Linked DNA regions of Homo sapiens. The protein of the gene in region 1 purifies or fractionates together with the protein of each later gene. This does not show direct contact. Each region holds a gene or a part of one and is shown on either strand. Other genes may lie near its edges.

What was found. Proteins that work in one complex are often made in the same cells at the same time.
Region 2: the proteins of NEK3 (region 1) and CDC27 purify together in Homo sapiens (affinity purification with mass spectrometry, with the first as the bait; one large-scale study listed by BioGRID). This does not show direct contact.

Annotation. Positions count from the first base shown.
Region 1 is NC_000013.11:52,135,520-52,139,176, forward strand, and holds part of NEK3 (serine/threonine-protein kinase Nek3), read right to left. Parts: intron 1,384-3,657; coding exon 1,281-1,383; intron 741-1,280; coding exon 597-740; intron 345-596; coding exon 210-344; intron 1-209.
Region 2 is NC_000017.11:47,182,772-47,186,428, forward strand, and holds part of CDC27 (cell division cycle protein 27 homolog), read right to left. Parts: intron 1-3,657. UniProt on the Homo sapiens protein: Component of the anaphase promoting complex/cyclosome (APC/C), a cell cycle-regulated E3 ubiquitin ligase that controls progression through mitosis and the G1 phase of the cell cycle.

The DNA of each region.
Region 1 (3,657 bases):
GAGGAGGGAAACCCTTTGAATTGAGTTTTGGAAGATGAGAACATTTCTGTGGATGGAAACTGGTGATGGCTGTACAACAATGTGACGTACTTAGTGCTACTGAACTGTACACCTTAAAATGGTTCAAATGTAAATTTTATGTTATATATATTTGCCACAATTTTCAAAAAGTCAAAGGGTTTCCAAGGTCACATACAGACATGAATTACCTGGTCTATATATTGTGTATGTTTGAAAAGCCAAGCTGAGATCAGCATTCTTAAGGATGTTCAACAAAGTGTCAGGGGTCTCTTTGAGCCACTGCTTACGAGTAGTATTTTTGCTGTACTTTATTACAGAACCACCTAGTTGCAAAAAGACAAAAATTAGTGCTGAATAAAAAAAGATTTTTCAGCATGTACTTTCCAGATCATATTTTCAAGCGAAGTTAGTTATATTTGACTGTTAACTAAAATCTGCTTCATTCACCTGTATGAGCAATGCTCTGATGTGTGACGCCAAATACCCTTCACAGACATTAAAAGGCTCTAAGTGCACTAAGTAACTATTAGAAAAAGTTCTCTAATAAAATAATAGTATTCAATCTGACTACTAACCTCTATCGTCCTCTGCTGTTAAACTGGAGGTGAGTATGGATGCATTTTCCAAAGCTGTAAGAGCTGTATTGGGTACATTTTTCTCCCACTGTCGTCTATGAAGATTTGGTGAACTGGCTTTCCTCAGATGGACTGACTTATTACCTGATTTTAAAGTGTGAAAAAGGAATGCCAAGCATGTGAAATTATGTATCCATCTCTGTCCACACATAGACTCTAACAAATATGGAAGTGTTTCTTTTCTCTTTCATATTCAGATCTATGTTTGAAAGATCAATGTTCTTTCTAATCTAAGTAGCAAAGGAAATTTAAAAAAAAATCCAAAATGAAAAATTAAAACGAACCATTACAGTGACTGAGTTAAAAAAATAATATGTATATAGTTACATATTCTATATTATACAAGAATGAAGCCCTGGGAGGACTTACATACACACAGTATGCTATGCTTTTTATGGTGGATAGCACAATAAATACTGCTCTTTCTAATGACTCTTACTGATAAATGCTATTCTCTCTTTTGTTGTAGGTAAATAAAATATTCCTAAAACATTAAATAAGTTACTAGATAAGCAAACAAATATCAGCTTGTACTCTTGTTTATGATATCTGAGACCTAGTAACATAAAAATTGGTATTCCCCAACTCCTCACCTAAGAAATGATTAGAATTTGAATAACTTACCTTTTTCTTCTCTGTTTACTCTTCTCAATGCACTTTCAACTAAATTTTCATTAATGCTTTCCAAATCAGTATGGCTACCCTTTCTATCTTGTTCTTCCTCTTGCTTTAAAAGAGATTAACAATACAGATTAAATAATGCTTGAATTGCCACAAAAAGGTAAACAAATATGCAAAGTCAGCCATTTTAATTTCAAATAAAAATTAATGGATTAAAATACATGAATAATCATAGAACCCCAAGGACATGTATATTAATAGCCATATATATCTATATGTATTTAATAACATATATATGTACATTAACCAAAAACCTACATACATGTATATATTAATAGACATACACATTAATAGCCATTAATATCAATTATTATAAATATGAAGAGGATATATTAAAATGACAGCTATTTGGTAAGTCTTTACTAAGGAAAAGACTAATGAAAAATTTCAATATGGTTTGCCGTACTGGGCTTTACAAACTATAATATCAAAATGAGATATTTTATAAAGTTGCCATATAGAATCAAAATGTTCCCACTTAATTCAGTATCTTTCCAAATTATCTAAGCCCTTGATTTATTTCGTGAAATATAGTAATACACTATCTGGTTTACTAAATCTGCATATACTTTGAGAAGAAGTACATATTGAATGCCTAAACAGTCCCAGGCAAACAAATTCTCAAATATTTATTGAATGAATAAAGAAAGAGTAGGCTTGGGTGGCATGGCGGGTTTTCTTATTTCTAAGCAGTGGTTCTGAAACTTCTCTTCCCACACATGTAGGGAACATAAAAATCTGTCACTTAACAGTGGTAGCTCACTTACAGCAGAGATTTCAAAGCCTCCTACACTCAAGAATGACATCAGAATCTTGGAGGAGTAGTGGTGAGGGGCAGCTGTGAAAAGCCCCCCAGGGGATTCCAGTCTTTCCTTCCCATTGAGGATCACTGCTTTCTGTGTCTGCAGCAGCCTCCCACATTCCTCTGGGCGCTATTCAACTCTGCCTTCATTGCCATCGTCCTTTGCTGGCCTGCACACAAGTTTTCCTACCTCAAGTCCTCCATTCCCTGACTGACTTTTTGGCCTTTTCTCCATTTTGTTTACATGTTGCACCCTTTTCATTTTGCGAACACATATTGCTGTGTTCACTACAGGTGGTATCAAACTATAGCGTGTGGGCACAGATCATCTGCAAAGGGCACAAGGAAACATTTTAGGGGATGGAAATTCTTTTCTTTTTGAGACAGAGTCTTGCTGTGTTGCCCAGGCTGGAGTGCAGAGGTGCGATCATAGCTCACTGCCCTCCTCAACTTCCCAGGCTCAGGCGATCCTCCCGCCTCAGCTTCCCAGTAGCTGGGACTACAGGCATGTGCCACCATGCCCACCTAAAATTTTTAATTTTTTGTAGAGATGGGGTCTCATTGTGTTGCCCAGGCTTGACGCAAACTCCTGGCCTCAATCAATGCTCCTGCCTCTGCCTCCCAGAGTGTTGGTATTACAGGCGTAAGCCACTCTGCCCCACCTGGAAGTTCTATATGATGACTGTGGCAGGGGTTATATGGATATTTAAATACCATCACCAAAATTTATCAAATTGTGCATAAAAATGGGTAAATTTTGTGGCATGTAAATTATACCTCAAAAACTGGAAAAAACAGACATTACAATGAAAAGAAAAAAAGTATAGAGGTCTGTATTCCATTTGTAGCAACATAATGGTGGGGTGTTGTTATTTATTTAGAACCTATGGTTCATTCAAAAAATTTAAAAGTTTAATTACTAGTACATTCCATGAAGAGAGCAATTTGTTGTCATACAACATCTTTTCCTTTTTGAATTGAAAGGTTAGGCCAGGTGAAGTGGCTCACACCTATAAATCCCAGCACTTTAGGAGGCCAAGGTGGGAGGATCACTTAAGCCCAAGAGTTCAACACCAGCCTGGGCAACATAGTGAGACCTCATCTCTATAAAAAAGTTAAAAAATTATCCGGGCATGGTGGCATGCACCTGTAGTTCCAGCTACTCAAGAGGCTGAGGTGGGAAGATCCCTTGAGCCCAGGAGGTTGAGTCTGCAGTGAGTGGTGTTTACGCCACTGCACTCCAGCCTAGACAACAGAGAGAGAGAGAGAGAGAAGGAGAGAAGGAAAGAAAGAAAGGTTGACTGAAATACTGAAAAAAACATCAATAGTACACAATTTGCTAAGGGGGGTGTGACAACACTGAAACATGGATCGGCTGTTAATATCCACAGCTTTAGGGAAGCTTCAGTGTAAAAGAATGTCACAGTTGCCCAGGGCTAGATGAACAGGACCCCGAATGCCAGCCTGAAAATTGATTCTTGGGATAACAAGGAGGTGCTACAAAGCATTGAACAGAAA
Region 2 (3,657 bases), on another chromosome or scaffold:
TGGGTTATTTCTAGGGTGTTTTTTTGTTTTGTTTTGTTTTTCCAATTATAACAATGCTGCAACAGTCTTAGATTCATCTCCTGGGGTATATATTTAAGAATCTCTCCAGCCTATCACGGTGGTGTGAGCCTTTAGTCCCAGCGACTCAGAAGGCTGAGCTGGGAAGACTGCTTGAGTCCAGGAGTTCAAGGCTATGATCATACCTGTGAATAGCTGCTGGAGTGCAATAGGAGCAAGACTCCCATCAAAAAAACACAAAAAAGAATCTCTCCAAATTAGGATATATATTTAGGAATAAAATTACTGGGTTGTTGAATATGCATATGTTCATCTTTACTAGGTAATGTCAAATCATTTTTAGTAATAAACTACTTTTGAGATATCTCACACCTGATCATGATACAAGCGTTATTTTTTATTTTTAGCACATACACCAGCTTATAATTTGTTGAATGATTTAAAAAGGTTACAACGGAAACCAGTAAAATCTGGTTACTGATCACTAGCTAACATTGTACCAGTACATCTAAATTATATTAAGTGATTAATATGCCTTAGATACAGTAAAGGCTCAACAAATTTTGTTGAACAAACAAGTAAATGTTTAATAATTCTGCAATGAGTATATTAATTATAATTTTAAAAATAAAAGTAGTAAATGACTTAGCCCTTTCTATTTCCTCAAGAAAGAACAGTAATGAACTTAGTTTGGGATCTCCAGAGCCTCTTGTTTAACCTTTGTTTATATAGCTTAAATTTTATAAAGTCTCAAAGATGTCTAATTTTACCATTCCTATCTAGATACAAGGAAAAAGATGAGATTAGGCACCATTATTATACACTCTAATTGCACCAAGTACCTTTCCTTTGTAATACTTCCCACTGCTATAATTCTGTATTAATTTAGGAGAGTATTTGAGTGATGTTTTCCTTACTATATTACAAACTCCACAAGGTAGGGGCTACGTCTGTTTTTGCTCATTATTATACTCCCAGTATCCATTATGTGCTTTTAAAGCAGGTGCTTATATGTTGAATGAATAAGCAAATGATCTTTAATTTCTAGCAGTCTTCCACTGTTGACACTCTTGTACGTTAGTCTTAGCATTAAGTTTCTTTGTATTCCTAGATGTATATCTAATAATAAAGAATCTCTGGGAGTCTCTATTGAAAGAAACTCTGTGATAAATAGAAGAATTATTTTATTATGCAAATAATTACCACCAAATTACTCCTTTATGAAATCTGGGATTTCCTAAGAACCTACATGTTTAATTTTGCTGTAAGTGAAAGAAAATGGTGAGTAGAATGAAGATACCAAAGATTTGATGTTTGGAGACGTGCTCAAATTTGTGTGCCAGCACTTCCAGTAGTGGGACTTTGTGGGAAATACTCAACTTTTCTCAGCCTCAATCTCTTCATCTGATAAATGGAGTTTATTTATTGGAGTTGTTTTGTGGATTAAATGAAATGATCCATTTATAATGCTCCTAGTATACTATCATACATTAAGCACTTGGAAAACCTTTTCCTTGCCAATCTCTTAATATAAAGAAATTCAATAAATATGTAGTTTCTGTTGCATAACATCTCCCCAGCATACCTGCTACAACTGCTTATTTTGCAATATATAAGCCACAAAAGACTCAAATGATTTACCAGCTATTTTACTACTATGGACCACTAGGAAAATTTCACACACATATACTAAAGTCAAAAAGTCCTAGAGCTTTGAAATTTTTTCTGTCCTTTTAAAATTAAAGAAATAAGAGGCAAGGGCGGGGGGAAAAAAGAAGGAAAAAAGGTATCATATTCAAGAGTTGTATCCATTTCTGACTTAAAATCAAGCTTTGCTCAGAACATCATTCCCTTATCACCAGTTCTTAAGAGCATCAGAAAAAACTTGCCATCTCGAGAATCTCACATACTGCTTCCATCCCGCTTTGCTCAATCAATTCTAAGTTCCTGACTAACAGTGTCTCTTGTGCCGGGATTGGGGGGAAGAACAGATTATTCTCTAAGGCACTACAGATTAGTAGCTGATGATGAACAGGGCTAAAATCAGCACCTCTGCCCAACTGATGGTGTGGGCCTTCCCTTAAAAGAACACCCAGTGCATTACCGCTAGAGTTCTACAAATTAAAGCCAGATGAACGAAATGCTGCTAAAAGAAAGTTATGAAGCCAAAAAGAACAACGCTCCTCTCCCTCTCCCCTAAAAAATGTTTAAGAGAAATCTGACTGATTAATGGGTTAGTCCCCAGGTGCACTAATTTAAAAGATAAATAAACCAACAGCTTAAAGTTGCAAAATTCCTTACCAGCTAGCTATTCTTAAATATAAAATATTATTTAAAATATAAACAAACCTCTATAAGTTGTACTTAGACTTAAATGTAATCACTATAAATTTTTCTCTTTTTTTTTGAGACAGAGTCTCACTCTGTCACCCAGGCTGGAGTGCAGTGGCGCGATCTCGGCTCACTGCAAGCTCCACCTCCTGGGTTCACGCCATTCTCCTGCCTCAGCCTCCTGAGTAGCTGGGACTACAGGTGCCTGCCACCATGCCCGGCTAATTTTTTTTGTATTTTTAGTAGAGAAGGAATGGTTTCACCCTGTTGGCCAGGATGGTCTCGATCTCCTGACCTCGTGATCCGCCTGCCTCAGCCCCCCAAAGTGCTGGGATTACAGGCGTGAGGCACCGCGCCCGGCCTGTAATCATTATAAATTTTTTGTTAGAGAAAGCTTATTACAAAAAATTTGTTTACTTGTTTTTGTTAAATTTTTTATACATTTTGTGTTCTTGTTTTTGTCAAAAAAGCTGTCTTTATTTTATTTTATTTGTTGGTCTTGAACTCCTTGGCTCAAGTGATCTGTCTGCCTCAGCCTCTGAAAGTGCTGGGATTACAAGCGTGAGCCACTGTGCCCAGTCAGCTGCCCTTTTTTAAAAACCATAAAATAAATGGATAATAAAGGCTTCAGACAATGTAAGAAGATACAAAGAAAAAAATCACTGTTGAAATTTCATATTATACATTATAATTGAATTTCTAGGATACTGATTTAGTTTAGATGCACGTCAGTGGTTCTTACTCTGGGCAATTTTGCCTTCTTACTCCCAATTAATGCCCCAACATTTAGCAATGTCTAGAGGGTATTTTTGGTTGTCACAAATGGAGGGGTCATCCAGTGGTTAGAAGCCAGGGATGCTACAAAACATTCTACAATGCACAGCTTCCAACAAAGTATTAGCTTGCCCCAAATGTCAATAGTGCTCAGATTAAGCAGCCCTGGTCTACATGATCATGCAGTTGGATTATTCTACTAGTCTGTATGTCTAACTCTTGTCTCTTCCTCCCTTTCCAACAGCACCAGATAAATATTCCCAAAGTGGTGCTTTTATTACATAATTCCTCTGCTCAAAAACTCTTCTGCTCATATAATGGTTATTCATTACCAATGCACATTAAATCTAAATTTCTCATTGAGTAGCCAAAATATGTTACTCTTTGAATCCATGTTAGATGCTGTCCCTGAACATTTTATCCCCAGCCAAGAGTACTCCTTCACCATCTAATGATCTCTAAAACAGTATCATGTATATAGTACCCAATTGCTATATTGCTTATTAAATTAATTTTCGAAAGGCTTATTTACAA